2 separate regions of the Homo sapiens genome follow, and region 1 is linked to region 2. The links come from fine-mapping of genetic effects on gene expression. Tissue or cell type: whole blood. Region 2 holds a variant in brackets; the other region holds the start of a gene. All regions are shown on one strand. Distances are from middle to middle. Region 1 holds the start of CD28 (CD28 molecule). Region 2 overlaps CD28 (CD28 molecule).

Region 1 (16,665 bases), 40 kb after region 2:
CAATTGTGCTTTGAAGGAGTGTCCGTCCTCTGATTTTTAGACAACCAAGTCTGACATGAATTGCGTATCCTCATCAATGCCTACACTAGTTAATAAAGGGCTTTTGTGTTAGAGATGATAAACCACAACAAATTTTCTTCTGGGATGTTGGTGGCATAAAAATTTTCCTTTTGTAAATGTCAGCACACTGCTTGCAGGAAATACTTGGAGGAAGATATCCACACAAGATAAAAGCCAAATGGTAATCATATGGCATTTCTCCACCCTTGAAAAAAGGCATAAGACGTTAAAAAGGAGGAGGGTCTATGTCTTAAAGAAGGGGAGGCAGCGAGATCCTCTCCCCACCCATAGTAAAAGTTTGAATGTGAGAGCTTTGGAGTTACAATCACAGATTCATTTCTATTTCTAATCTATCTGTGGCAATGACTCATTCCATTTCCTGGTATTGATATATTGATATTAATTTTGCAGTCCTTGCTGTAAACGTCCTTGCTGGATGGTTGCCTTAAAAAACACAATGTGTTAACTAGGGCACGGTAGTAGAGTAAAACAAATCCTTAAGCAATGCCTATACTTTTGAAATATCCATCAAATTTACTTGAAATGACAAAAACATCCAGTCAATTTCTTTTAACAGAAAAACTGGCCACAGCATATTGGAAGTCATGTAAATACGGCAATCTGTTGATTTTTTGACATTCATCTTTTCACCTTACTTTCCCAAGCCCAGTCTCAGAGCAACACTTAACTGTGAGAAACAAATTACTTCTTTCCGTATACAACCAGCTCAGGGGAGTCATTGGCTGAAGACTAGAGTACAAATAAAATTTTTAATTGCTTTGCTGATGACTTTTTATTAAATGTCAGTTATTTTCCTGCTTTCCATGCCTCTCTCAGAAAAATAAGCGCTAAGGGAAGGCGCTGGAGAAATTAGCTTTGTCCAAACTGGCCATTTTGACAGTTTTTTGCCCAAGTTTTGGAGAAGTGAAAAGGAATGATCTCATGGAAAAATAAGTGGTAATATGCTGATTTTTCTCTTCACACTGGATGATTAGGCTTGCTAAAAAATAGCAAATATGGCCTGAAACATGTGACCAATGTCAAGTATTTTGTGCATACCATCCTTCTATCATCAATCCCAGAGCATTTCCCTCTTAAGGCTCTGTAGTTCTGGGCTGGACTCCTATCCCAAAGTCCAGCAAAATACTCTCTGTGGATCTCAGTTGCACAATTATCCGAGTCTAGTAGAAAACATGCAAAGGGCTTATCTAAGTTAAGGTTTCCTCACTCTTCCTAAATCACACTTCTTTAACTTAGCCATAAATATCTCTCTACACTGTCATCCAACTCATAAGGAATCAGGTTAGACTTAACCTTTATAGAATAAATATTTTAAGCTATGCTGTAAACAAATAAGTTACATTATTAAATTAATGGAAAAAAGAACTATTCTTCATATACATACATACACACACATTATTAAATTAATGGAAAAAAGAACTATTCTTCATATACATACATACACACACATGCACGCACACAGATACACATCTCAACACAGGCATAACAGTGGTTTCTCAGACCTAGGAAGGACAGTTACACTTTGACCAGAGAATTTCCCTATCTATAATTTCTTAATGGAAGGTGTGTACAGAGAAAGGCAAAGCACACAAGAAGCTTTGCACTATTTGATTAGAATGCAGCATAATTTTTTTTTTTTTTTGAGACTGTTTCCCAGGCTGGAGTGCAGGGGTGCAATCTAAGTTCACAGCAACCTCCGCGTCCCGGGTTTAAGCAATTCTCCTGCCTAAGCCTCACAAGTAGCTGGGATTACAGGCGCATGCCACCACACCCTGCTAATTTTTTTGTATTTTTAGTAGAGATGGGATTTCACCATGTTAGCCCGACGGGTCTCCAACTCCTGACCTCAAGTGATCCACCCGCCTCAGCGTCCCACGATTACAGGCGTGAGCCACCACACCAGGCCAAATCATACATTTTTTATGTGGTCATTCTTTTCTTGCTCGTAAGTTTTCTTACTGGAAAAGACTGTAAAAGTGTCCCCTTCACTCCCATCTCTTTCCTTCTTCATTAGATAGCCACTCAGTATCAAATGCTAAAAGTTACTAGAAAAGTGAATTGGCATTTGAAAAGTAAATATATGTCAAAGTAGAAAACAAAGGCCCTATGTGTGTGAACTCTCCAACCACTTATCTAGCTAGTCCCCTTTTAATAAATGTTCTAAAGAAAACATACAAAGTTTTGAGTCTTACCAAAAACTCTTCAAAAGAGAGTGAATAAGTTGATGACAGATAGGTGTCCACAAAGCACATCAGAAAAGTATTTAGTGTACAATTACCAATTTTAAATAGTTTTCAGTCAGGGTAGGCTTCCCTTGACTGTCTAACAAATTAAGTAATTTTAAATATTCTTTAAGTTTGAGAGATCTCTTAAAAATAAGGTTTGACCTTTTTAAAATAAATGTTAAAGATTCTTGTAGAATATATTTGGTAGCTGTAAACGCTTGGTACCAGATCTCATTGCCAACTCATGTCTTTCATTATATCAACACGTTTTATAAATATACACAATTTGTGCTCACTGGTACGTCAGACCATAAAATAAACGGGTATATATGCAACTACTGTACCTCTGCAGATTGGGAAATTATACTCTTTGGGCTATGTACACTTAATGTTTAAGAATAACAACAAATAATGCAGTCTCTGTACTGCCAAAATAAGAAAGAAAATTGAGGATACTGGCTTTTCAATGTATCTTTCAGGGAAAAATAACTGTCCTTATTTAAGCATGACTGTTGACCCCTATCAGTCCAGTTTTTGAACCAAGCGGGGGCCTTTTTCTAACTCTGAGAACACGTTGAATGAGCATCTTACTCCAGCCCACCCAAGTAACAAATTCTTTCTGTTAGGAATTGTGCTTGTGATTTTCCGAAGTTAATTTAACCCTGGATTTACCTGAGTCCATGAAATTACAAATCACACCATGTTAGATGGAATAGCATAATAATCAACAACACCGGCACTGGAGTCAGACTAAGGTGGTTCAGACCCTGCCTCCTATAGCTGCCACCTGTACATCCTTGGGCAAATCCCTTAATGTGCCTACCCCTCAGTCTCTTCATCTGAAATGAAGTTAACTGTAATACCTACCTTCTAGTTACGAGAACTGTGTGCTGCTCAAAGTGCTAGATGTATTATCCTCCTCATCATCGTCATTGGGAACTTAAAGAATTTTAATCTAAGAAAATACATTTTGGCCGATTGTAAAAGAAAACTAATTTATTAATATTGGTGTTGTAGCAGCTTCTGTGGTGACTCCAGAATTCATGTTGGAACTCATTCAATTCAGGTAGATAGAGTAATTACAGTTCACATTTATCTTGAAGCCTGACTGAGCTAAGCCCTTCGCATGGATTATTTCATTTTACCTCACAATGACCTTGAGGTGAGGTTTATTATTATTCCCACTTTACAGTTAAGGAAACTGAGGTTTGGAGAGTTTAAATAATAGCTAAGCCTAAGCTTACCTAGTGAGAATTGGACCTGTGTTAGGAACATAGGCAACCTAAATTCAGAGCTTCCAGAGCCAATCTACTTACAGCAGCTTTCTTAAATTAAAAAAAAAAAGAAAGAAAGAAAGAAACGATACATAAATTAAAAATTATTGGCCGGGCATGGTAGCTCATGCCTGTAACCCTAGCACTTTGGGAGGCAGAGGCAGGTGGATTGCTTGAGCTCAGAAGTTTGAGACCAGCCTGGGCAACATAGTGAAACCCCATCTCAATTTAAAATAATAATAATAATAATAAATTCTTGGGACACTATCAACTAATAGCTAGAGAAACTAATAGCTTAGAAAATTTATTTCCAAGGGACTTTTGTTAAGATACTATATTGTAGTCTGAGAATCAATGATTTTCAAAATAACACATTGCCCTATTACAGCAAAACTACACTTCAAATGTTCAAATTTCACACATTGTTAGAAATTTAAAATAAACTAAGCCAATTGGAAGACCTCAAAAAATATTTACAGAAAGAAAGACATTAACATTGTTTACCTGTTACTTGAATTGAAGGGAATAAGTTGAGAGCCAAGAGCAGCCTGAGCATCTTTGTCCTGACGATGGGCTAGGGTTCCAGCCCCTCCTCCCCGAGGAACCCGAAGTGTGAGGGGAACTGAAAGACGCACCTGCCAAGGCCTGAGAGTCTCCGTCATCCACGGCCACCACCACCGCCACCATCCCCTTAGGGCACATGATCAAGGCACTCAAACCACAAGGCATCCTGACTGCAGCATTTCACACAGGATATAACGTTGTTTTGATGACTTTAGACTTTTACTTCTATTTTTAAAGACTTTTTTTTTGTCACTGAAAAATAGTCGGTCACTACATGATGGGCTTATGGGAATTATTCTTTATTGATGGATATCAAGAGTTGTGTAAAAGGGGTGCTTGAAATCCAGCAGAGATTAAAGGGGAGACAAAGTGTTCTTAAGAAGGAACAGGCCGGGTGCAGTGGCTCACGCCTGTAATGCCAGCAATTTGGGAGGCCAAAGTGGGTGGATCATTTGAGGCCAGGAGGTCAAGACGAGCCTGGCCAACATGGTGAAACCCCGTCTCCATTGAAAATACAAAAAATTAGCCAGGCATCATGGTGGGTACCTGTAATCCCAGCTACTAGGGAGGCTAAGGCAGGAGAATCGCTTGAACCCAGGAGGTGGAGGCTGCTATGAGCCGAGATCATGCCACTGCACTCCAGCCAGGGCAACAGAATGAGAAAAGAAAGACAGAAAGAAAGAGAGAAAGAAAAGAAAAGAAAAGAAAAGAAAAGAAGGAAAGAAGGAAGGAAGGGGAGAGAGAAAAAAGAAAGGAAGAAAGAAAGAGAGAGAAAGAGAAAGAAAGAAAGAAAGAAAAGAAAGAAAGAAAGAGAAAGAAAGAAAGAAAGAAAGAAAGAAAGAAAGAAAGAAAGAAAGAAAGAAAGAAAGATGGAAAGAAAGAAAGAGGGAGGGAGGGAAGGAAGGAAGGGGGAGAGAGAGAAAGAAAGAATAAAGTCTCTAGCAGAGGAGAGATTTTCATAGGATGGGGACAGGTTGTGTCAAAAAGATAATGGTAAGAATTCTACTGAGGAATTGGGAAACATCTGCATAAACGTTTAAAGGAGTTACAAATATTAGAAATGTAACATTTGTGTAGGACATAAGGTAGCCCTCTGGAGCATTTAGCACACAGTGCTTGATTTATGTCAAGCCTCCTCCAACTCACTTCTAGGAACTTTGCAAAACCCATTCTACGTGCAAGCAGCCAGCCAGCTGAGTATCTGGGGGAGGTTCCCTAAGCAAAGGGAAAGTCAAAACAACATTCTATGTTCTTAGTGGGACAGTAAGGCAACCAAAAGCCCCTTGGTGTCTCATGCTCTCTATGTCCCTCAAGGTTAAGTAATAGGGCACAAAAGGAGGCTCCGTGGCAGGATTTCTGAGATTCATAACCACCACCCGACTGCACCCTTCTTCAACTCCCAGGCCCTTTGCAGAGAGGGTTATTCCACCAGCACGGCCAACTGCTCTCTTCTTCCGGCACCTACGTCAGTATCTTGTACTCAATGACTTCTTCAAAACTTTTCCAGTAATTTTTTTCTTCTTTTTGATAATCTAAGCTTTGTGCAATTACTCTAGTTGGGGGTTTTGTGTATGTGGGTTGTTTTAAAAGATAACTTGTATTGCTTTTTATTCTGACTATAAAAGTAAGGCATATTTCATTGAGAATGTTTAGAAAAATTATAAGCATTAAAACAAGATTCATCCACATTCTTACCACCCTAATATAAACACTGCTAATATTCTGGTCCACTGCCTTCCACCTGTTGGTCTGTTAAGATTTTTACATGTTTAATATCATGTTTTACTTATAGTTTTCATCAGATATGTACTATTATTTGTTATATCTTGAACATTTTCCCATGTCATTTAAGTATCTTTATAAACATTATTTGTAATTGATGCATAATATTCCATTCTCTAATTATATCATAAATTGTTTAACAAACCCCTAGTGTTGTTACCTTTTTTTCTTCGCTATTTTAAAATGCTACAGTCAAACTCTTTGATGACCTAGCTGTAAGAGGAGGCAGGCTTCATGTCCCTCCCTCCTGATCTGATAAATGACAGATCAAAAGTATTTCCTGTCCTGGTAGACCTTCTTTGTTCACACTTCAATTTTCCCACAAACACAGTCTTTGTGAACCCCTCTTACTAACACATCTTTTGGTCCTTTGGAGAAATTTGTCCTTGGAAATGATTCACTCACACTTCTGAACTATAGGTAAGTGACAAAGCTATGCCCTGAGTCCTGGAGAAGATTCACTTCTAGAATTTGACACAGTCTTCCTGGCTCTGATCCTCTATCCAGTTAGGGGAACCCATGCCTTCCCCAGGGCCTGAAGTCTATCTGGGGGAAAATTTACAGATGGCAAGGTGACCTTTCCTAAAAGGTCATCCATATTCTAGAGCCACCAGCCTACCCAGATCTTAAAACAAGAGGCTCTGAGACTCATTATACATACTGAGAATATACACAGAAGAAACAAAGATACCCAGTAGTTTTCCATGATCAACAACAAAAGGCTAAGGAGTGAGTTAATAACTGTCTTCAAGCATATTAAAGATGACTACATAGCATCTAGTTAATACTATGTAAATAGTAGTAATCGGGTCAAACTTAGCTGAAAAAGAAACAGTTCACTCATCTGGCCTAATTCCCTTATCTTGCAGAGAAGGAAGCTGCAGCCCAGAGAGGTCAGCTCATTTATACGAATTCACAAAACAATAATTAAATATTATTGGCCTTATTATTTGATGAGCCATATTTAATTTTCTTTCCATAGAATAAAAAGAAACACAAACTTTGACATTTGCCTTCCTATGTTTTAACATGTATGACACTAAAGAAGCAAACCATTTCATTAGAATCCTTTCACATTTGCTTTTGAAATCCAATAGCATTCACATATACCAAGAGGTAGAAATGACAGAAATAAAATAAGGACCTTAAATCCGGCAATACACAGGATACTGAGACCCTACAACATTTTCAGTAAAAATAATAGCATTTCCATACTAAGAACTTTACATTCCAGATCTCATTTAATACACAACCTGTGAGGAAGATTATTATTATCTCCATTTTACAGATGAGAAAACTGGTCTGAAGTGGGGTTAAGAATTGTCAGAACAAAAGAATGTCATTTTTCACAGAATTTGAAAAAGCAATCCTAAAAATCGTGTGGAATCCAAAAAGAGCTGAATAGTCAAAGCAATCCTAAGCAAAAAGAACAAAGCTTTGAAGTATCACATTACCTAACTTCAAATTACATGGTAAAACTATAGTAACCAAAACAGCATGGTACTAGTATAAAAATAGATACATAGAACAATGGAACAGAATAGAGAACCCAGAGATAAAGCCACATATCTACAACCAACTGATCTTCAACAAAGTTAACAAAAATATATGCTGGGGAGAGGACTCCCTATTCAATAAATGGTGCTGGGAAAATTGGCTAGCTATATGCAGAAGAATGAAACGGGGCCCATACCTCTCACCATATACAAAAATTAACATAATATGCATTAAAGCCCTAAATGTAAGACCTGAAACTATAAAAATCCCAGAAGAAAACCAAGAAAAAACTCTTTTTTACATCTGCCGAGGCAAAGAATTTATGAACAAGTCCTCAGAAGCAAAGGCAACAAAATAGACACATGGGACTTAAATAAACTAAAAAGCTTCTGCACAGCAAAAGAAACAATCAACAGAGTAAGTAGATAACTATAGAATGGGAAAAATATTTGCAAACTAAACATCTGACAAAAGGCTAATAACCAGAATCTACATGGAACTGAAACAACTCAACAAGAAAAAAACAATCCCATTAAAAAGTAGGCAGAGGACATGAACAGACATTTTTCTTTCTTTTTGTTTTTTTAAATTTACTTCAAGTTCTGGGATACATGTGCAGAACGTGCAGGTTTGTTACAAAGGTATACGTGTGCCATGGTGGTTTGCTGCACCTATTAACCCATCATCTAGGTTTTAAGCCCCATATGTATTAGGTATTTGTCCTAATGCTCTCCCTCCCCTTGATCCCCACCCCCTGACAGGTCACAGTGTGTGATGTTACCCTCCCTGTGTCCATGTGTTCTCATTGTTCAACTCCCACTTATGAGTGAGAACATGTGGTGTTTGGTTTTCTGCTCCTGTGTTAGTTTGCTGAGAATGATGGCTTCCAGCTTCATCCATGTCCCTGCAAAGGACATGAACTCATACTTTTTTATGGCTGCATAGTGTTCCATAGTATATACGTGCCATATTTTCTTTATCTAGTCTATCATTGATGGGCATTTGGGTTGGTTCTAAGTTTTTGCTGTTGTAAATAGTGCTGCAATAAGCATACGTGTGCATGTCTTTACAGTAGAATGATTTATAATCCTTTGGGTATATACCCAGTAATGGGATTGCTGGGTCAAATGGTATTTCTGGTTCTAGATCCTTGAGGAATCGACACACTGTCTTCCACAATGGTTGAACTAATTTACACTCCCACCAACAGCGTAAAAGAGTTCCTATTTCTCCACAGCCTCGCCAGCATCCGTTGTTTCCTGACTTTTTAATAATTGCCATTCTAACCAGCGTGAGACGGTATCTCATTGTGGTTTTGATTTGCATTTCTCTAATGATCAGTGATGATGAGCTTTTTTTCATGTTTGTTGGCTGCAGAAATGTCTTCTTTTGAGAAGTGTCTGTTCGTATCCTTTGCCCACTTTTTATGGGGTTGTTTTTTTCTTGTAAATTTGTTTAAGTTCCTTACAGATTCTGGATATTAGACGTTTGTCAGATGGATAGATTGCAAAAATTTCTCCCATTCTGTAGTTTGCTTATTCACTCATGGTAGTTTCTTTTGCTGTGCAGAAGCTCTTTAGTTTTAATTAGATCTCATTTGTCAATTTTGGCTTTTGTTGTGATTGCTTTTGGTGTTTTAGTCATGAAGTCTTTGCCCATGCCTATGTCCTGAATGGTATTGCCTTGGTTTGCTTCTAGGGTTTTTATGGTTTTAGGTTTTACATTTAAATCTTTAATCCATCTTAAGTTAATTTTTGTATAAGCTATAAGGAAGGGGACCAGTTTAAGTTTTCTGCATATGGCTAGCCAGTTTTCCCAGCACCATTTATTAAATAGGGAATCCTTTCCCCATTGCTTGTTTTTGTCAGGTTTGTCAAAGATCAGATGGTTGTAGACGTGTGGTGTTATTTCTGAGGTCTCTGTTTCGTTCCATTGGTCTATATATCTGTTTTGGTACCAGTACCATGCTGTTTTGGTTACTGTAGCCTTATAGTACAGTTTGAAGTCAGGTAGCAGGATGCCTCCAGCTTTGTTGTTTTTGCTTAGGATTCTCTTGGCTATATAGGCTCTTTTTTGGTTCCATATGAAATTTAAAGTAGTTTTTTCTAATTCTGCAAAGAAAGTCAATGGTAGCTTGATGGTAATAGTATTGAATCTATAAGTTACTTTGGGCCATATGGCCAATCTCATGGTACTGATTCTTCCTATTCATGAGCATGGAATGTTTTTCCATTTGTTTGTGTCCTCTCTTATTTCCTTGAGCAGTGGTTTGTAGTTCTCCTTGAAGAGGTCCTTCACATCCCTTGTAAGCTGTATTCCTAAGTATCTTATTTTCTTTGTAGCAATTGTGAATGGGAGTTCACTCATGATTTGGCTCTCTACTTGTCTATTATTGGTGTATAGGAATGCTTGTGATTTTTGCCTATTGATTTTGTATCCTGAGACTTTGCTGAAGTTGCTTATCAGAAGGAGTTTTTGGGCTGAGACGATGGATATGAACTCATTCTTTTTATGGCTGCATAGTATTCCATAGTATATATGTGCCATATTTTCTTTTTTTTAATTTAATTTAATTTTATTTTTTTATTTTTTGAGACAGAGTTTCGCTCTTGTTGCCCAGGCTAGAGTACAATGGCACGATCTTGGCTCACTGCAACTTCTGCCTCCCAGGTTCAAGCAATTCTCCTGCCTCAGCCTCCCAGGTAGCTGGGATTACAGGCATGCACCACCAGGCCCAGCTAATTTTTGTATTTTTAGTAGAGATGGGGTTTCTCCATGTTGGTCTGGCTGGTCTCGAACTCCCAACATCAGGTGATCCACCTGCCTTGGCCTCCCAAAGTGCTGGGATTACAGGCGTAAGCCACTACACCCAGCCCATATATGTGCCATATTTTGTTTATCCAGTCTATCATTGATGGGCATTTGGGTTGGTTCCAAGTCTTTGCTGTTGTAAATAGTGCTCCAATAAACATACGTGTGCATGTCTTTATAGTAGAATGATTTATAATCGTTTGGGTATATACCCAGTAATGGGATTGCTGGGTCAAATGGTATTTCTGGTTCTAGATCCTTGAGGAATTGACACACTGTCTTCTACAATGGTTGAACTAATTTACATTCCCACCAATGGTGTAAAAGAGTTCCTATTTCTCCACAGCCTCGCCAGCATCTGTTGTTTCCTGACTTTTCAATAATCGCCATTCTAACTGGCATGAGATGGTTTTCTAAATATACAGTCTAAATATACAGCATTCTAAAAATACAGATAGGTTTTCTAAATATACAGTCATGTCAACTGCAAACAAAGACAATTTGACTTCCTCTCTTCCTATTTGAATACGCTTTATTTCTTTCTCTTGCCTGATTGCCCTGGCCAGAAGTTCCAGTACTATGTTGAATAGGAGTGTGAAAGAGGGCATCCTTGTCTTGTGCTGGTTTTTAAAGGGAATGCTTCCAGCTTTTGCCCATTCAGTATGATATTGGCTATGGGTTTGTCATAAATAGCTCTTATTATTTTGAGATATGTTTCATCAACACCTAGTTTACTGAGAGTTTTTAGCATGAAGCGGTGTTGAATTTTATCAAAGCTTTTTCCACATCTTTTGAGATAATCATGTGGTTTTTGTCATTGGTTCTGTTTATGTGATGGATTACATTTATTGATTTGTGTATGTTGAACCAGCCTTGCATGCTAAGGATGAAGTCGACTTGATCATGGTGGATAAGCTTTCTGATGTGCTGCTGGATTCGGTTTGCCAGTATTTTATTGAGGATTTTGGCATCAATGTTCATCAAGGATATTCGCCTGAAATTTTCTTTTTTTGTTGTGTCTCTGCCAGAGTTTGGTATCAGGATGATGCTGGCCTCATAAAATGAGTTAGGGAGGAATCCCTCTTTTTCTAATTTTTGGAATAGTTTCAGAAGAAATGGTACCAGCTCCTCTTTGTACCTCTGGTAGAATTCAGCTGTGACTCTGTCTGGTCCTGGGCTTTTTCTGGTTGATAGGGTATTAATTACTGCCTCCATTTCAGAACTTGTTATTGGTCTATTCAGAGATTTGACTTCTCCATGGTTTAGTCTTGGGAGGGTGTATGTGTCCAGGAATTTATCCATTTCTTCTAGATTTTCTAGTTTATTTGCATAGAGGTGTTTTGGTTTTTTTTTTCTTTTTTAGACGGAGTCTCGCTCTGTCGCCCAGGCTGGAGTGCAGTGGCGCAATCTCGGCTCACTGCAAACTCCGCCTCCCAGGTTCACACCATTCTCCTGCCTCAGCCTCCCGAGCAGCTGGGACTACAGGCGCCTGCCACCATGCCCGGCTAATTTTTTGTGTTTTTAATAGAGATGGAGTTTCACCATGTTAGCCAGGATGGTCTCAACCTCCTGACCTCATGATCCGCCCGCCTTGGCCTCCTAAAGTGCTGAGATTACAGGCGTGAGCCACTGCACCCGGCCGCATAGAGGTGTTTATAGTATTTTCTGATGGTAGTTTGTATTTCTGTGGGATCAGTGGTGATATCCCCTTCATCATTTTTTATTGTGTCTATTTGATTCTTCTCTCTTTTCTTCTTTATTAGTCTGGCTAGTGGTCTATCTATTTTGTTAATCTTTTCAAAACACCAGCTCCTGGATTCACTGAATTTCTGAAGGGCTTTTCATGTCTCTATCTCCTTCAGTTCTGCTCTGATCTTAGTTATTTATTGTCTTCTGCTAGCTTTTGAATTTGTTTGCTCTTGCTTCTCTATTTACTTTACTTTTGATGTTAGGGTGTCAATTTCAGATCTTTCCTGCTTTCTGATATGGGTATTTAGTGCTATAAACTTCCCTCTTAACTCTGCTTAACTGTGTCCCGGAGATTCTGGTACGTTGTGTCTTTGTTCTCATTGATTTCAAAGAACTTCTTTATTTCTGCCTTAATTTCGTTATCACCCAGTAGTCATTCAGGAGCAGGTTGTTCAGTTTCCGTGCAGTTGCACAGTTTTGAGCGTTTCTTAATCCTGAGTTCTAATTTGATTGCACTGTGGTCTGAGAGACTGTTTGTTATGATTTCCGTCCTTTTTCATTTGCCAAGGAGTGTTTTACTTCCAATTATGTGGTCGATTTTAGAATAAGTGCTATGCAGTGCTAAAAAGAATGTATATTCTATCGATTTGGGATGGAGAGTTCTGTAGATGTCTATTAGGTCCACTTGGTTCAGAGCTGAGTTCAACTCCTGAATATCCTTGTTAATTTTCTGTCTTGTTGATCTGTCTAATATTGACAGTGGGGTGTTAAAGTCTCCCACTATTACTGTGTGGGAATATAAGTCTCTTTGTAGGTCTCTAAGAGCTTGTTTTATGAATCTGGGTGCTCCTGTTTTCAGGGCACATATATTTAGGATAGTTAGCTCTTCTTGTTGCATCGATCACTTTACCATTATGTAATGCCCTTATTTGTCTTTTTTGATCTTTGTTGGTTTAAAGTCTGTTTTATCACAGACTAGGATTGCAATTCCTGCTTTTTTTTGCTTTCCATTTGCTTGGTAAATACTCCTCCATCCCTTTATTTTGAGCCTATGTGTCTTTGCATGTGAGATGGGTCTCCTGAATACAGCACACCGATGGATCTTGACTCTTTATCCAGTTTTCCAGTCTGTGTCTTTTAAGTGGGGCATTAGCCCATTTACGTTTAAGGTTAATACTGTTATGTGTGAATTTGATCCTGTCATCATGATGCTAGCTGGTTATTCTGCATATTAGTTAATGCAGTTTCTTCATGGTGACTTTATATTTTGGTGTGTTTTTGCAGTGGCTGGTACCAGTTTTTCCTTTCCATATTTAGTGCTTCTTTCAGGAGCTCTTGTAAGGCAGGCCTGGTAGTGACAAAATCCCTCAGCATTTGCTTGTTAAACAGACATTTTTCAAAACAAGACATACAAGTGGCTAACAAACATATGAAAAAATGCTCAATATTGCTGATCATCAGAGAAATGCAAATTAAAACCACAGTGAGATACCATCTTACACTAGTCAGAATGGCTATTAATAAACAGTCTAAAAACAGCCAATAATCATGAGGAGAAAAGAGAATGCCTGTATACCACTGGTGGGAATGTAAATTAGTACAGCCTTTATGGAAAATAGTATGGAGATTTCTCAAAGAACTAAAAATAGAACTAGCATTCAATCCAGCACTCCCACAACTGGGTATATACCCAAAGGGAAAGAAATCATTACGTCAAAAAGATACCTGCCCTCGTATGTTTAGCACAGCACTATTCACAGTGGCAAAGATATGGAATCAACACAAGAGTCCATCAACAGAGGATTGAATAAAGAATATGGGCTATAGCTATACATTGGAGGTATATATATATATATACACACACACACACACACACACACACGTACAAAAGGTGTATAATGTATACACACACACACATACACATACGCATACACACATACCATGGAATAATACAGAGCCAAAAAAATAATGAAATCATTTGCAGCAATGCATACACACATACCATGGAATAATACAGAGCCAAAAAAATAATGAAATCATTTGCAGCAACATGGATGGAACTGGAGGTCATTATCCTTAGTGAAATAACTCATAAACAGAAAGTCAAACACACATGTTCTCACTTAAAAGAGGAAGCTAAACAATGTACACGTGGACATACAGAGTGAAATAATAGACATTAGAGACACCAAAAGGTGGGAGGTGGGAGGCAGGTGAGGGTTGAAAAGTTACCTATGGGGTACAATGCTCACTATTTGGGTGGTGGGTACACTAAAAGCCCAGACTTCACCACCATGCAATATATGCATGTAAGAAACCTGTATGTGGCCGGGCACAGTGGCTCATGCCTGTAATCCCAGCACTTTGGGAGGCTGAGGCAGGCAGATCACCTGAGGTCGGGAGTTCTAGACCAGCCTGACCAACATGGAGAAACACCATCTCTACTAAAAATACAAAATTAGCCAAGCGTGGTGGCACATGCCTGTAATCCCAGCTACTAGGGAGGCTGAGGCAGGAGAATCACTTGAACCTGGGAGGCGGAGGTTGTGGTGAGCCGAGATTGCGCCATTGCATTCCAGCCTGGGCAACAAGAGTGAAACTCCATCTCAAAAAAAAAAAAGAAACCTGTATTTGTTTCTCCTAAGTATATATTTTTTTTAATTTTAAGAGTTATGAGGACAAAAACATAAGGGTATTCATTACCTTTCAGTTGCAAGACATCTAACATGGTGTATCTCTTTAGAGCTTAAATGGAGTCACTTAGGAAACCGTGGAGTGGCCCAAACGGCTCTGGGAAGTCATAATTAACTGTGCTTCATAGAAGTGCACCTGTATTTTTCTGGAGAAATTCCAGATTTGTTAAATCCACATAAGCCCTTGATATTCAAGGACATATGCATCACGATGAAACAAACAACTTTAATCAATCAATGAGCAGATTGAAGTCCCGACCACATTGCTTGTTAGAGAAAAATATAATACAGGTGACCAAATTCTATAGGCTGTTTGAAACGTAACAGGAACTAAGGCTGAAAATAAGATCCTGTGAGGGAGTTGAGTGAGGAATGAATCTCAGGGCCTTCACCACTTATTGCTCTCTGGTCAGGATTTTTATCTCCAATCCGAGTAAATTGCCCTCATTCTTCCAGGATCAAAGTAAACAGAACCTCTTCAAAGATACTGTCTCCAGCCACCATTGGCTACACACACACACACACACACTCCCCACTTCTGACCCATCTAAACCAGGTCTCCCTGCTATAATCTCCATTGCACTCTTTATACAGCGCACTGGGAATGCCAAGAAGAAAAAGTAACTACAGATGTGTTCGTGCCATTAAGTGTTTAATGTCTATGTCCTCCAGTAGACTATAAACATGATGAGGGTGAATCCATGTCTCTCTCATTTCCAGCTGTATCCCCTGTGTCTAGCTCATAGTAAGGGCTCAATAAGGCATTTACTGAAGGAATGAAACACTCCACCATTGCTCTCTGACCTCCAATCAATATGCCTGCAATTGTGAACCTTTTTCTCTCTGGTACTCTGGCCATGGTAATCTTCTCATCCCTGGTTTCCCAAGGATATAATACTAGATATAGTGTTGCTGAAAATAGCATTTTGCCACTAGCTAGGACATATATATTCCTGTCTGTTCTCTACCCTATATTTCTGTCTGAGCTGTGCTCAATGATACAGAAGACTCAAAGACCTAACACCTTCACAACTCATTTCTCCTACAGCCAAGGCCAGAGTCATGCCTAGCCACTCAGCATCTCCCTCCTCTTTCCCCTGGGGCCTCTGTGGTTCCCATCTAGACCTTGAGAGATGAGGAGCTCCCTGCACAGAATGCATACCCATACTCAGTTTACCATCTAGAATGCAGAACAGGAAAGGTAACTGACTTGGGAATTCCAGTAGCTAACACACAGATTTGAAGTCCCACAGATTTAGGGATCAAATGTAGTTGGACCACTTTCTAGTTATATAATAATCTCATAAAGTCACAGCCTCAATTCCTCATGTGTAAAATAGGGATGACAATACCTCACTCAATATATTGTCCATATCTCACACAAAGTGTAAATCTCCCCTTGCTTTTAAGACACAAAGAAAGTTTGATGAATCTCCATTTCACACTTACTGTAGGGGCTCAATAAATCTTTGTTGGAACAGCCAGAATGGATCCTTGAATATAGGTTCAATATATTTATGTGGATTGATTTTACTCTACAGCATGAATGCCACCAGAACCCGATTTTTACATTAGCATAGTATTCCTCCTTGATGTACAATCCTTTAATAACATATACCAGTATAAACTGCAAAGTATCATTGAAGAGTCTTTAAGAATTATTGTGGTCAAGCTGGTCAGTGAGAAGCCCCATGGCTCTCTCTTGTACACAGCAAGCCTACCAGGATAATATCTTCTTTGATCTAAATTCCAGCTAGAAATTTGCCTTTCATTTCAGTTTCTAATCTTCCCCCAAAGCTCTGCCTTACAGAGATTCGAATTGTCACATGGTGATTGTGGGGAAATAATGAAGCCTGAGACTTTCTGTTTGAGCTGTGTGGTATTATTCCAGCTGTTGCTACGAAAAACTTTGTCAAAAAAAAATAGACAAAGATGAAGTTAAGAAAGTCATGCATATTATCACAAATCAGCAGGACCGAAGCCTGAAAAAAAAAAAAAAACACTATGCTAAGCCTCAGAGAAAGAAAAATCAGAAATAATGGCCATATT
Region 2 (15,962 bases):
GTCATTGATATTTTGCCAACTTTCAGTTTTACTTTACGTGTATTTTTCTATTTGTCATCATAAAGATATATTTGTCAAGAGAGGGGGATAGAACATATGTAATATCACTTAGCTCTCTTGATTGATGATGTCTAGATATTTAGTGGGTCTCCGTTGATTGGACTTTATCCTAAGCTCCACAAAGATTATGGCTGGTCCTGACCATGACTTCCACTTCAAAATGTCCTCTGCACATGGCTTCTTTAACTCTTCTGCACCTGGCAGATCTAGGTATAAAGAAGCTTTGCCTGCCCATCTGTTTCCCTCCCAGGCCCCAGTCTAAATTTGGTGCATGCTGTTATTCTATCACATAAGCCTGTATTCTTTTTTGTAGCACCTACCACAGTCCATAATTGCATATGTATTTGTGAGTTTCTGTGTTAATGTTTGTCTCCTCTGCCAGCTTAAAAGCTCCATGAGGTGAGGAAATTTGTCTCTTCTCTCATCATTTTATACCCAGCATTTAGCTCTTAGATGGTATTCAATAAATATTTATTAAATGAATGAGAAAATGAATAAACTATACATTGAGGGCTGGCTCATAGATCTATCTCCCTAGCCTCTGCTCACTCCTGACCGCCGCAACTCTATTAGTTGTCCAGCTGCATCATAAGGCATCTCCACCTGGATTCTCACAAACACGCCAAATTCAACATGTCCAAAGTGAAATTCAACATCATGCCCCCTACTAAAATTAATTCCTCCTCCTGCATCTCTAGCTCACAGAGTGTAAGTACCACCTGCACCAGTCTAAAACCAGGGAGTGGCCGGGTACGGTGGCTCACGCCTGTTATCCCACCACTTTGGAAGGCTGAGGCAGGTGGATCATGAGGTCAGGAGATCAAGACCATCCTGGCTAACATGGTGAAACCCCGTCTCTACTAAAAATACAAAAAAAATTAGCCAGATCTGGTGGCGGGCACCTGTAGTCCCAGCTACTTGGGAGGCTGAGGCAGGAGAATTGCTTTAACCCAGGAGGCGGAGGTTGCAGTGAGCTGAGATCGTGCCACTGCACTCCAGCCTGGGCGACAGAGCAAGACTCCATCTCCAAAAATAAATAAATAAATAAAACCAAGGAGTGACCTTCTCCTTCCCTCTATCTTCTAGTCTTCCAATAGTCCTCACCTTTCTGTCCTCTAGGTACCTTCCACTAATGCATCCCTCCAACTTATGTTCTTTGATTTACTGCAACAGCTGTTGAACCACTCCTCACATTGCTAGCAAAATAATCTTTCCAAAATGCAAATTTAATCAGGTCCCTCTTGTGCTTAAAACCTTCCAAAAAATTGGAAGGGTGGGAGTTAGTAGAAGTGAGCTGAATTCTTCATCTTCATAGTGGAGAGTCTGTAAATACTGTTCGGTTTGACAAATCAAGAAACAGGGAGATAAACATATTGAGAGTTATGGAGGTAAATGGAAACTGTTAAAAAAAAAATGGTAACCTCTGAAAAATAGAACTGTGGGACAGGGGACAAGGAGGAGGAAGACATTTAGTTTTCATTTTATAGCTTTCTGCAATGTAAGATTATAGGTTATATATTATAAATAATAATTTTAAGCAAATTTTTAAAATTATATATTTTATTAGCTTTCCCTTGCCCTTGGGATAAGCCCCAAATTCCTAGGAATAAAGAGTTTGTCTTAATAGAGGTGGTCTCATCTCTTATACTCTCTTGGACTTAACCTATTCTCCAGCCACCCTGAATTCACACATTGAACTCCTCAAAGGCACCGTGCTTGTGTTTTTGCACAAGTTAGTCTCTCTACCTGAAATGTAATTCCCCGCTTCGTCACTTGCCTAAGCCTCCCTTGTTCTTTAAGATTCAGCTGCTGTCATCTACAAATACTTTCCTGAGCCTCCCCAACTCCTTGCATGGTTAGGTGATGCCCCACCTTTGAGCCACAATAACTCCCTATGTATAGCTCTATTATAGACCTGAAAACCATGTGAAAAGCTTTGTGTCTCCCATAGCCTGGGAGCTTCTTGAGGACAGGATCTATATCTAATTCCTGTGACAAGTGCAGTGCCTGGCATGGAATGGATACTTAATAAAAGCTGATGAATAAACAAAGAAACAATAAGCTTACCTCTTACATCTATTCATCTCTAAAATGAAGGAGTTACAAGCAAAGGAATAGTTTCTTTGAAGTGATTCTACATTAAAAAGCTGACAATACAACTGAAAAAAAAATGGGCAGAGGATATGAGTAGACAGTTCACAGAAAAAAAAAAGACTCTTATGAGAAATGAAAAGATGATGAATCTGATTCATAAAAATGAAACACAAATCAACTCAATGATAAAATATCATTTCAAACTATCAAACTGGCAAAGATCAAACATGTTAACACTGTGCTAATGAGAATAAATAGGGTAAAAGGCTCTCTCATACGTGACTGATGGGACTGTATATCAATATAACCTCTGTGCAAAGCAAATTGGCAATATTTCTAAAAATTAAAAATGCAAGTACTCCTTCTCAAAGCTATTCTATTTCCCACAAGTTTGAAAAGCTGTGTATTGCTTTTCAGGGCCAGATTGGAATTCCAGTCCACAATAGTCTTTCACCTCTGAACTTGAATTGTATATCATTTAATTAGAGCTTAGTATATACTACCTTTATGACGAGTTATTTCCCCAACCAAGTAGTAAATTGCTAAGGTCAAAACTCTGTCAAATCTCTTTCTGTCCTTCTCAGTCCCCATCACTAGACTGAACACATGTGTGGCCAGTTTGTGTCCTTTTCATAGGACACAAGCAGGAAATCCCCAAGCCATTCTAGAAGCTAATGTGTTATCCCAGGGCCCCCAGAGAAGATCAATGTTGCTGGAGGTGCCACTGTCAGAATCAAAGACAGACTGAAAGGATGAAGATCCAGGCCCAGTACATCTACTTTGGTCTTATGATAACATTTCATTATTAGAAAATTTTAAATATAAGTATACTTTGAATTTTTAAACGTGACTTTTTTTTTTTTTGAGACAGAGTCTCGCTCTGTTGCCCAGGCTGGAGTGCAGTGGCGCCATCTCGGCTCACTGCAACCTCCGCCTCCCAGGTTCAAGCGATTCTCCTGCCTCAGCCTCCCAAGTAGCTGGGATTACAGGCACGCACCATCACGCCCAGCTAATTTTTGTATTTTTAGTAGAGACAGGGTTTCACCATGTTGGCCTCCATCTCCTGACCTCGTGATCTGCCCGCCTCAGCCTCCCAAAGTACTGGGATTACAGGCATGAGGCACCACACCCAGCCTAAAATATTATTTTACAACTACAAAAACCAATCTCCTCTACAGGCCGCTGGAGTTTAGGCCAGCATTAGGTAACACAGGGGTAGAAAGAGATCACTGAACTAGGAGAATCATGGAAGATTTTACTGATATGTTGTATTTTATATTACCAGGAAGTGAGCCAGTGTTCTCATTTTTCACATACATACTTTAATTCAAAATACAAATATTGGCTGGACTTGGTGGCTCATGCCTGTAAACTCAGCACTTTGGAAGGCTGAGGCGGGCAGATCACTTGAGGTCAGGAGTTCGAGACCAGCCCGGCCACATGATGAAACCCCATCTCTACTGAAAACATACAAAAATTAGCTGGGCGTGCTGGTGGGCACCTGTAATCCCAGCTACTTGGGAGGCTGATGCAGGAGAATTGCTTGAACCTGGGAGGCAGAGGTTGCAGTGAGCCACTGTACCACTGCACTCCGGCCTGGGTGACAGAGTGAGACCGGGTCTCAAAACTAAAAATAACAGAAAAATACAAATAATTTGGTTCCTTCCTGGAGGTGCTCCTTCTCAGCAATGTGTATGACAAAAAGAAGGGAAGAAGAAAATCTTGATGATCTCTTGTGGGGGTCTTTGTATCCTCTGCTGTTCTGTGATTTATAATGCTTCCCAAAGAAGCAAATTGCCCAAATTTCATATGTCAGTGGACGTGGATATTGTCCTAAATGTGGTAATAACATTTAGTTATTCAGGGTTATCAGTGATTAATAATTGAACATGTCAATAGAACAAGATACTATTGAGTCAAATTCTTTGTATCCCCCAAATAATAGAATATATTAGTATTTATACACATCAATAAACATGAAGTTATCAGAATGCTTTAAACTTCATGTAATAGAAAATCTAACCCAAAAGGGCTTAAACAATAAAGTTATTTACTGTCTCACATGACAAGAACTGGAAGGAAGGAAGGGAGGAAGGAAGGAAGGAAGGAAGGAAGGAAGCAAGGAGAATTCAAGTCGGCTCAATCTGCAGCTCAATAATGTCACCAAGATCCAGGTTCCTCCCCTCTTTCTGCTCTTCCTGCCTCAGCATGTTCTCAGGCCAATTCCTCCCCTGGTCGCAAAGAGGCTATATCAGATGCTGCTTGCAGACATAACATTCTATAGCAGAAAGGAAACTTTGTTTCCAAACATCTCTTTTTAAAGAGCAAGGAGAGGCTGAGCACGGTGGCTCACACCTGTAATCCCAGCACTTTGGAGGCCGAGGCAAGTAGATCACTTGAGGTCAGGAGTTCGGGACCAGCCTGGCGAACATGGTGAAATCCTGTCTCTACTAAAAATACAAAAATTAGCCAGGCATGGTGGTACATGCCTGTAGTCCCAGCTACTCAGGAGACTGAGGCACAAGAATTGCTTGAACCCAGGAAGCTGGAGGTTGCAGTGAGGTTGCAGTTAGCCAAGATGGCACCACTGCACTCCAGCCTGGGCAACAGAGTGAGACTGTCTCAAAATAAAAAAAAGAGCAAAAAGAAACTTTATCAGAGACCCGTCAGGCTATTGGTCAGAATTTTATCATGTGTCCATGCCTAAACCAATCACTGATGAGAAGGTTAGGACTACCATTCTGGCTTAAACTAATCCTTATCCACTCCCTGGAACTCCCCAGAGCACATGGAGAGTAGATAACTGAACACAATTAGAGTTCTGTTTGTTGCCAAGGAAGGATAAACAGTTTTTGCTTCTGAATGCCTAAACAATGTCTTAAAATGCATATTAATTAATACATTTCAATAATTTTAAAAATATGAATTTCCCAAGTCTTTTCATAGTATCTAGTTAACTAATTTGTCCTCAATTTTCCCAAGTCTTTTCATAATACCTGTTTCGTCTAATTTGTCAAAAACCAAAATAGCTTGCGGATATTTATCAAATGAAAGATAGTCATTCATTTATCCATCCATCCATTGATTCACTCATTAAGATATTCTGAGCACCCATCACATGCAAGATGTAGTTCACTATGAAGACTTCAATAATGTATAAGAAGTTTATTTGGAAAATGACAAGCTTTAAAAAATGATGTAATAGTTTACATAGTATTTACATAGTAAACTATTACATCATTTTTTAAACCTTAAACTTCATTAAACTTTAAAATTCATTATTTTAACTTTAAACTAAACTTTAGAATTCATTATTTTCTCCAGAAAAAGTGATGGAAACAATTTTGATAAATTAGTAAACTTAACTGTTGTAGAGAATTATACATTTATTCAAATAATCCTGGTTGACAAATCTCAAACATAAAATATTTATATCTGTAAGACTTAGAAATGTGATAGTGGAGAAACCCAAAACAATGGTATTCATGATGGGAAGATAATTCTAGGAGAGTTATAATATGGAGTATGAAAACAATTATAGGAATGAGCTCTGAGGTTATTTAGTCTGGTCCCCTCATGTACTGATAACTAAGAAATAAGAGTAGACTACATTAACTGAAGAGTTCTAGGTACATCCCCAAAACTAACCCCAAACCCAGTGTCTTAGTCCATTTGCATTGCTATAAAGGAATACCTGAGGCTGGGTAATTTATAACAAAAAGAGGTTTATTTGGAACATAGTTCTGCAGGCTGTACAAGAAGTATAGCACTCTATTCTGCTTCTAGCAGGGACTTCAGGAAGCTTCCAGTCATGGCAGAAGGGGGAAGGGGAGCTGGTATGTAAAGATCACATGGCAGGAAGTGAGAGATAGAGAGAGAGAAAGAGTGAGAAAGAGAGAGAAATAGGCAGGGGAGAAGGGAGGCACTGAATAGGATGCCAGACTCTTTTTGACAACCAGATCTCCCCAAAACTAAGAGCAAGAACTCAATCCCATACGAATGGCACCAAGCCATTCATGAGGGATCCGCCCCTAAGACCCAAACACCTCCCACTAGACCCCATCTCCAACACTGGGGATCAAATTTCAAAATGAGATTTGGAGAGGACAAATATCCAAGCTATATTACCTAGTATTCCTCAGGTCACAAAAACATTTTTTGTTTTTCTTCTAAGAGCCAAACTAGGACACGAACTAGGAAGTTTCTTCTCTCATTACTCTCCAAAGACATACCCACCCAGTGTAAGTCAAGAAAAACCAACCAACTAAATTAAAACATGCAGAGCTAAGGTGAAGGGAAGACTAAAGAAGGGACCGAGGAGATAAATTTTTGTGATATTTAGAACCATTCCATTTTGTGGGGGAGGGGTAGTTTTATTTTGTTTTAACTATTACTCATCCTAGAAAATTCCTGCTTTGAGAATGGGGATATAATTTCTATAAAGCTCAGTAACCAAATGGCAGAAAGGCTAGCATTCTATCAGGGCCTCAATAGCCCATACATGCGGGCATTAGAGAAGGCGCCCTCTCCTTCATTAAGCAGGTGCAGAGCTTGATAAGGGGAGCTTGACTAGATTTCAGCCCTCTTCATTCCCTTCACTAGGGGCCTTTGTGCAAGGCACACAGTGCATAAATGTACATAGTAGCACTATTTTCTGGAGTAGAAAAATCTTGGGATTTCCCAAAGCTGTTCACCCCAACTCAGAACTGGAACACCATGTGTAAAGTCAGGAAAATTCATTCTGCCAGAAGCTTTTTTTCATTACTGACATCCTAGACTGTTGGTACAATAATCTTAATCATCTGACCTTTTAGAGGCAATTTCCTGATCTTGGCTGGACAGACCAGTCTAAATGCTCCATTTGGCCCTATTTTTAAATTGCCCAGATGGTGTGACTGGGTGTGTGGCTTAGGGTGCCCCCATATGCTGGGCTGCTTCCAGGAACGATTTGTACCTTGGGTATAACAAGACTGGAGTGAGGAATGGGGGCAAGGGATGGTAAGGGTTAGGTCGGTGCCTTTCTGATCTGAGTAATACTGATTTCATCAGCTACTTGTGAAATGCTGAGCCTTAATGTAGATTCATGAGGGGTTACTCTTGGCCACTCATAAATGGCAGCCAAATGCAGACTGGAAACATGAGATAGGTAGAAAGTAGGAGGCCAATTCTGAGACAGCTGCTTCTGATCTCTACCCACCCAGAGTTGGATTTGGATGTACTACATAGGGAAGAATTAGCAGGGAAGTCAAGCCTGTTCATCACATTGGACACAGACCATTTTCTGCCCCCTTCCTTCTGTGCATTTGTTTCCTGGCCGGGCGCGGTGGCTCATGCCTATAATCCCAGCACTTTGGGAGGCCAAGGTGGGCGGATCACGAGGTCAGGAGATCGAGACCATCCTGGCTAACATGGTGAAACCCTGTCTCTACTAAAAATACAAAAAATTAGCCAGGCGTGGTGGTGGGTGGCGGATGCCTGTAGTCCCATCTACTCGGGAGGCTGAGGCAGGAGAATGGCATGAACCAGGAGGCAGAGCTTGCAGTGAGCGGAGATAGTGCCACTGCACTCCAGCCTGGGCGATAGATCGAGACTCCATCTCAAAAAAAAAAAAAAGAAAGAAAGAAATTTGTTTCCTTGGAGATTACAAGGATGTGATGCCTAGAAAAGAGGGAAAAGAGTAGAAAGGACTTGAGAAAAGAGTAACAAGAGCTCCCAAGATGTTTAGGCTTTCATCAATAATATAGGCCAGGCACAGTGGCTCATGCCTGTAATCCCAACACTTTGGGAGGCCGTGGTGGGTGGATCACTTGAGGCCAGGCGTTCGAGACCAGCCTCGCCAACATGGTGAAACCCCATCTCTACTAAAAATAAAAATAAAAAATAAAAAAATTAGCCGGGAGTGGTGGCGTGTGCCTATCATCCCAGCTACTGAGGAGACTGAGGCATGAGAATCGCTTGACCCCGAGAGGCAGAGGATGTAGTGAGCTGAGATCATGCTACTGTACTCCAGCCTGGGTGACAGAGCAAGACTCTGTCAAAATTAATAATAATAATATACAGAAGACTCTGTCTTCCTGAAACAGCTTCTCATTCCCTTTGCTTATAACTTCCCATTTCTTCTACCTCAAATGGCTTTCCTTAGATGAAAGCTCTTCCTTCTTCTTTATTGATCCATGTCCTTCTTTCAAAAGAGATGCTTGACTCTCAGCACTCCCAAGAAGCCTTTACACACATTCAAACCAATTCCTTCTGGCCCTAAAAATGTAGAAGGTGGCTGGAACTCAAAAATAAGCCTATAGCTAAGGTTGCAGCTTAGATCTAAGTCAAGGATCAGCAAACCGTAGCCCATAAGCCATGTCCAGCCCACTACCTGCCTTTGTACAGCCCATGAACTAAAAATGGATTTTCCATCTATAAATGGTTGGGGGAAAAAAACAAAGGAAAAGTAATATTGCATGACATGAAAATCACACGAACTTCACATATCAATATCCATAAATAAAGGTTTATTGGAATGCAGCCATGCTTATTTGTTTATATATTGTTTATGGCTGCTTTCACACTACAGTGGCAAAACTTATTATCTATAAGAGACAGTATAGTCACAAAGCCTAAAATATTTACTATCTGGCCCTTAACAGAAAAAAATTTGCTGATTCCTGATCTATGACATTGAAAGAGTTAGAGATGTTAAATAGGAACATGTCAAAGAAATGAATTTCAGGCAAACCAACAAAGGCTATCAAGTAGCCACATTAAGATCTAAGTCCCAAAATCAAGACTAAGTGGTTACCCCTAGAAGCAGGATATAGGGGGCAGGAAAAGAAAAAAAAAACTGAAGTAATATACAAAGCAGACACTCTACACTTCGGAAGTGTGGAGGTAATATCTGTGCTGCACACTGCCACATCCCTGTACCTAGCCCACATCTTAGTGCTGGGCAGGTGCCCATTAACTAGTTCTAGAATGAATGAAGTAGAAGAGAGGAAGGAGAAACATAAAGCAAATGAAACAAGCATTGCATAGGGTTGGGGATAAAAGAGGGTCCCCAACAACCACCTGAAGTTTGTCTTCCCTGTGTAATATGTCACAGGTTCTCAAAAGTTAGCAGAAACCTCCATTTGGGAAGCTAAGTGTGTGCCCAAGAGACTGAAGAAATGACTAAATAACTATGGTAACTACCCCGATGCCCATTCAAGGTCACCTTTTCCACCCCTTCCTCAGTCACCAGATGCAAATATATTTAGTCCAGAGAATAAATTCAGACGAGATTAGCAAGGGGAAGGAAATCACATATAAAGCTCATGAAATAAACAGCGCCACTTGTCACTGCTGATCTTTGATTAACTGGCTCTTCTTTCCGAAACAGGGCCTCCTTTTCTTCTTTTTCTCTCTCTGTCTTTCTCTTTGTTTTCAGGTGACACCCACACATATCCTTCAGTGTTGGCAGAGATGCTCACTCAGATAACAACTGGAGTTCATGCTGCACATTTTCATCTTCGTGTGTCATCATCACCATGTAAAACCACAACTATAGGAAAACAAAGCTGTTTGCTGCTCTTCTTCTCAACTGACATTTCCACCCAGCTCATGATTTGTTCTTTGGAGCCAGAGGAGAGTTTCAATTTATCACTGAGATAGCTCTGCCTGATGAAGTGAGAGTAAAATCCAGTCCACTTCCACCCTGAAATCCATTCACCTTTCTTCAACTTTTTGTCCCTTCAAATTCCTAGCATTCAAGGGTCTTTCACAGAGTTTCAACAGGCAAATCAGATAGGAAAATGAGCTTCGGGAAGCACACATTCTGGCCCTGAGAGTTGCACCAAGAATGAGGTCAGCTTTGAAGAGCTGATATATTCTTTGATCACCTCAAGCAATTTATCATCTCAAGCAATTTTCAAGTGTTGGGCCCGGTGTCAACACCCTGAAATGAACAAAAGTCACTCTGAGAAATTGTGTGACCTTCTGCTCTGGACAGTGGCCTAGGTTTCCAAGTGCTAGGATCCTGTGAATCTTCAAAGAGAAAGCACATATTTCTTCTGGGTTGCCAAATCAGAGAAAGCTGAGAGGCCCCACCATTCACATGTGTTCTTGAAGGGGTATGATCCCAGTTCACTGCAGCCTCAGCCTCCTAAGTAGCTGGGACTACAGGCCTGCACCATCACGTCTGGCTAATTTTTTTTTTTAATACAGACAGGGTCTCCCTATGTTGTTCAAGCTGGTCTTGAACTCCTAGACTCAAGTGATCCTCCTGCATTAGCCTCCCAAAGTGCTGACATTACAGGCATGAGTGACCGTGCCCAGCCCCAAACTTTCTTATGAGCACCACTGTCAAAAAGTCAAGAGTTAGGCCTCAGTTTAGGAAACACAGACAGACATTAGAAGCAAAGTTACCAGACAAGGTTCTGGTCTGCTTTCCAGACCATCCCATTTGCTGCTGCATAGTGTGATGGTTAGGTCCCCATTACAATGAATCCAGAAGCTTCTTTAATTTTTTCTCACCTATCCATTATCTCTGATACCGACAAGATGGGAGAGAAGAAAGGGTATTGCTTTAAAAGGGAATCAATCTGTTTTATCATACTGGAGGGAAAAAGTGAATTCGGGGTTGTGGGCAATTACAATATTCACCCAGTTGGGTAGCTAGAATGTTGTGGGAGGTGTTAGGTGAAGCGAAGTTTGCATTTTATTTTGTTTTGAACTTGAGTTTCAAAGTACTAGAACCTTTTTACAGAACTGGGTTACATTATTTTTATTAGCATGGTAAAGGAGTGCTTATTGAGCAGATTCATTTAATGGCTTTTTTTTTTTTACCCATCTCGTTCCTTTCCAATTGATTTGATTTGTCTTATTGAACTATCCATGAGTAACCAGCTGAGTTCAGTCTTTCTTGGAGTAGTAAGAGACATATAAGCTCATCTTTTTCAAGTTTAATTACCTTTATTAAGTTTAATAAGCTTCATTTCACCAAAGAAAAGAATCAGTTTAGAGATGAACTCATTGCACACCAATTTAATTGACTCTGAGTCACCTTCAGAGTAAAATTTCAACGAAGGAAACAGAAGGTGCTACATGAATTATTAGACCAGCTCTTGTGTCTGTTGTTCAAGCGCCTTTCCCTTCCCCTACCCAGAAGATGATAGGGGTGTGTGTGTGTGTGTGTGGGTCTGTGTGTGTGTGTGTGTGTGTGTGTGTGTGTGCTATTAGAGTGTTCAGCTATGATATGAGTATGACAGGTGAAGAAGTTGAAATTTTCTGTCCCCAGCATTTCCATTTGTGAGCACTTTTTGAATCAGAGCCAGAGAAGGCATTTATAGAATTTGTTGGGGGTAAAATCACCCCAGAAAAAAGAGTAGCAGGTCAGTAGTAGGATGGGATTTTAACATTTTAGACAAAGACAACATTTTCAGAAGTCTTAAACTAAAGATATGTTTAAGATATAGCCAATACTCCATTAAGAGGGAATTTGGGGACTTCAATGGAAAATCAACTTACTCCTGACAGTGGCTGAGTTGGCATGACTTTTCTAACAGTACTGGTTTTCCTCACTGCACAAAAATTTCTAAAACGTAAATGAACTTATATTCATCAGATTTTCTTTCACTAGATTTGGCTGTGTATATATTTTACCTCCTGTTTTTTTAATAAAATGAATTTTTGAACTTCTTAAGAGGAAAGTAGAAAATAGAACTGGCTTTCTCCCTCTCAAAGTATGATTATAACATTTAGACTCACCGTTAATTCATAAGGCCATGTAAAACTCATTCACTCAGTCAATAAATATTTATTATATACCAGGCACTGCTCTGGGCACTGGAGATACAGCAAGAAACAAAGCAAAGTTACTTGCCTCATGAAGCTTATAAACTACAAATAAATAAGAAAAATGTCTAATGTAAGAGATGGTAAAATGCTATGGAGAAAAATAAGCAAGGAAAGCAGACAGGGTGTGGGGTAGTTTAACTAGGGGAGAAGATGACACTTGAGCAAGGACCTGAAGGGTGACGAGGCAAGCCAGGTCATCTACAGAAGGACATTCTAGACAGAGTAAACAGGACATGTAAAGGCCCTGAGGTAGGAACATGCCTGTGATGGTTGAGTATTCCTGATACATTCCTATATGTCAGAAAGTATGCATATATCTATAGGAAAGAGAGACTTTCTGAGCCTCAAATGGCCTTGCAGATAACACAGACTCCCTCACCCCAGGTCTTGAGAGAGTGTGTGTCACTCTCTTTGACCTGGATTATTAATAAGTCTATAGCAATCAAGATCCTGGTTCTGGGTCCTTTATTGGCACCATCTCTAATCTCCAGCATGTAGTTGAATTTAACACTTTGGGATCAGTATCCAGGTCTGGTATAGTTCCCAGCTGGCAGTGCAAATGGCTGGGATAAGGGATCAGACATGCATTTAACCATCAATACCCTCATTAAAATAGCCATGAGGACCGGTGGCTCAGTTAGTTAA[C/G]CCGAGGGACTGATGGGGTCAAGGCTGAAGTTGGATCTCTGTCAAACTTCTCAGCATTCACATGACACAGAACACATAGGTAAGCCTAGCCTGACATCTCAAAGAGGTCAGCCATTGGTCTGATAAGAAATTGTGACTGAAGTCAAGCAAACAAACCAGAAACGTACCCTGCTTGAAGTGAAATTAGTATTTGAAAGTCTAGCTTTTTCAAAAAAGGCTAAACTGGAGATTTATACAAGGATTTACCCCACACCTCTTTTAAATAGCAAGTTCTATCCAAATTCCTTGCCAAAGCGAAGCATATCTATTCTGAAAGCATATCTTTCTTAATACCAAAAGACAATATTAAAGTACAAATTTAAAGCAGACATATAGTAGTTTAGTAATTTTATCACTGAATATGTAGAACATAATGTACATACACTTGGTCTCTTTAAATTGGCATGCTTAACCCAAATAGGTGAGCTCACAATCAAAAATTATAGGAGTACCATTAATTATAAGACTCTTACAATAATAGCAGCAAATGACATTGTTTTCTTCATAACTACCATATCTGAAACTATGAAAGCATTGCTCCTACCACTGTTTTTGAACCATTTCTTGGTTCATACTAATAGTGAAAACGGACTTCCCTGTATAACATTTCTTCTTTGTTTCTGTGCAGAGTGAGTAAGAAACATCTCAAGTGTGATTCATCTTTAGTAGGCCTATTTTTCCAGTCAGAAAACAAAATCATTTATTACCATAGATCAAGTCTTTCCATTTAAAAAAAAGTATTTATTTATTTGCCACTGCCATTTCAAAAAACTCTCCAGCTCTGTCATTTTCAAATACAATCTGATAACTTGGATTGAAGAACTCTGTGTGCCCAAGAAGCTGGCAAGTGGCACACGTGCCAGGGTAAATCCAACAGTTCTTCAGCACCCAAGTACTGCTGAGTTTGATCTTCTTGGGACTGATTAAATCCATGGAATGGAAGCCCACTTAAAAATCAACCAAAGTACAGTATTTTCGATCTGGAATCTCAAGATTCCTACTCCTCCCTTCCTTCTCACATTAAAAAAAAATTAAAAGACCTCTTTCTATACATAAAAGTGGGAGGTGCCTTATATTTCATTACAAGATAAACTATTTCAAGAAACAGGAAAATGATGGAAGTTAAAAGGTCCTCATATTATAGCACCTCATCCCTGCGTAGTGGGTTTAAATTTGTGTTACAATATTCCCCCCTTCTTAGGCTATTGCCCAGTTTAATTTTTATACATAATTTATCTATATGGCAATAATACCAATAGCTAACATTGTATGTCGGGCATGCTACTAAATGTCAGGGATAGGCAGAGTCAAAGACAGACTTGGGCCATGCCCTTATGGAGATTATACTATAGGAAGAGACATTTGTAACCATTATCTCCATTTTATAGTTGAAGAACCATCATCTTAGGTGGGCAGTGACTTGCCTGAGGCTATTCAACTACTAACGAGACTTGAACCAAGTCTACGTGCCTCTAAAACCTAAGCTCCTTCAACACCTGAATTAACTGAAGCATGAACAAATGGTGAGGGCCACTGAAGGGCCATTCTTCAAGGTCCCCAGGCATATTCTAGTTGACTCAAACTGTAGGTAGAAAAATATCCATGGTCATTTCAGGGTCAGGCCTTACCCAGTCCCTTAAGAACTCTGATGCTCTCTTCAAAAGACACATTCCAAAATACTTTCCCATGTGAATGGACCTCCAAGGTACAGGAGCAGCTGAGCCCAGAGTTTTGGAGCTCTGAGCCCTAAACCACATAAAGTCCCTGTAAAGGAGCTCTCACCAGGGCACCTTCTGCCTGACCACTTCTGGAAGATTGTCACCTAATGCTGGCTATCTCCTCAGCACATGGCAAGAATTTCATTACTCCATTCTATTCGTCCTCCTTCCAAAGAACCTTCTTGGGACTCATCCTCATACTCTAATGAATGCTAACATCCCTTTTTCACAGTATTCTCACTTCTCCTATGGACGCTCTTTCCACAACCCACTTTGGATCTCCACACCGACATTAAAGAGACCAACTGTGCAACCCTGAAACATATGAAACAGGAAAGCTCCTACCTGGTCTGATTGGAATGAACTGTTAGACAAATAATCCTTCACAGTACTCAAATAATTTTGTGGTTTGTTGTTGTTGTTGTTGTTGTTGTTGTTGTTTGAGATGGAGTCTCACTCTGTCGCCCAGGCTGGAGAGCTGTGGCACTATCTCGGCTCACTGCAACCTCCGCCTGCCAGGTTCAAGCGATTCTCATGCCTCAGCCTCTTGGGCAGCTGGGATTACAGGTGCCTGCCACCAGGCCAAGCTAAATTTTGTATTTTTAGTACAGACGGAGTTTCACCATCTTGACCAGGCTGGTCCTGATCTCAAGTGATCTGCCCACCTCGGCCTCCCAAAGTGCTGGGATTACAAGCATGAGCCACTGCGCCAGGTCCCATAGTACTCAAATAATTTTGACATAAAGTGACCTTATTTCCTGACATATTCTTTCTTCATGTAGGAGAACTATTTTATTCTTTCGAAAGTATATTGTGAACATTAACACTGAAGTCTCATGACAGGGAGTGAGGAAAGCAACTTGGTTTACCTGATATTGCTTTGAGGGAATCCCTCATTTGACCAAATCCCTCATTTGGTCAAAATGACTAAATATGATCAGAATTCATAAAAGACAATGTCTATGTATTTCTAAACTAAAGGAAAACAGCATTAAATAGGAACTACGTGGCTCATTTCATGAGTGGGAGACAGTGTTTTAATGGTTTTTAAATATGTCTTCCTATCCCTCCCCCTACTCTAACTTACCCCGTTTAACCCACTAACCAAAAGATTAAACACCCATTTAACCAAAAGGAATGATTTCCTAGCCTTTCTTCTGCAACTAAAATGTCTGTGGATACCACACTTTGCTTGACTGAGATGTGCAGGTGAGTGAGAAAGGGAAGAGGCTCCCAGAATCCACTCCCTTTTTGTTTTCTACCCTAACTTCTCAGTCAAGTCACTAAGTACATGGTAAGTTGGAATGTGGGCCATGGCACTGTAAGACTTGGCCTGTCACAGGAAATCTCTTTTACTTCATTTCAGAGTCTCAAAATGATCTTGATATTTGGTCTAGTCACTCGAGAAAAATTGGCATTGGTGGCCCAACAGGGGCCTGAGGTGGCCGGCTGGAGATGGCGGTCATTTCCTATCCAGAGCAGTGATATTGAGCAGATGGGGGCTGCCAGCCGGCTGGCTTCTGGATAGGCGTCCGTGTCAGGAGCGATAGGCTGCGAAGTCGCGTGGTGGGGCATAGGGCT

Evidence for each region. PIP is the estimated chance that this variant, and not a neighbour inherited with it, causes the effect.
Region 1: it holds the start of CD28, and the variant in region 2 is fine-mapped to the expression of CD28 in whole blood (INTERVAL, PIP above 0.99).

The regions. Positions count from the first base shown.
Region 1 is chr2:203,694,168-203,710,832 of GRCh38, reverse strand. It overlaps CD28 (CD28 molecule), which reads right to left and starts at 4,194. Exons shown (of 4, transcript NM_006139.4): 1 at 4,085-4,194. The coding sequence starts at 4,136. RefSeq lists an enhancer at 4,165-4,314.
Region 2 is chr2:203,734,869-203,750,830 of GRCh38, reverse strand. CD28 (CD28 molecule) reads right to left here. Exons shown (of 4, transcript NM_006139.4): 4 at 11,919-15,962. The coding sequence ends at 15,919. Among named protein-coding and RNA genes, the nearest start is that of CD28, 36 kb to the right of the region's middle. The variant C/G (reference allele first, on the strand shown) is at 12,625.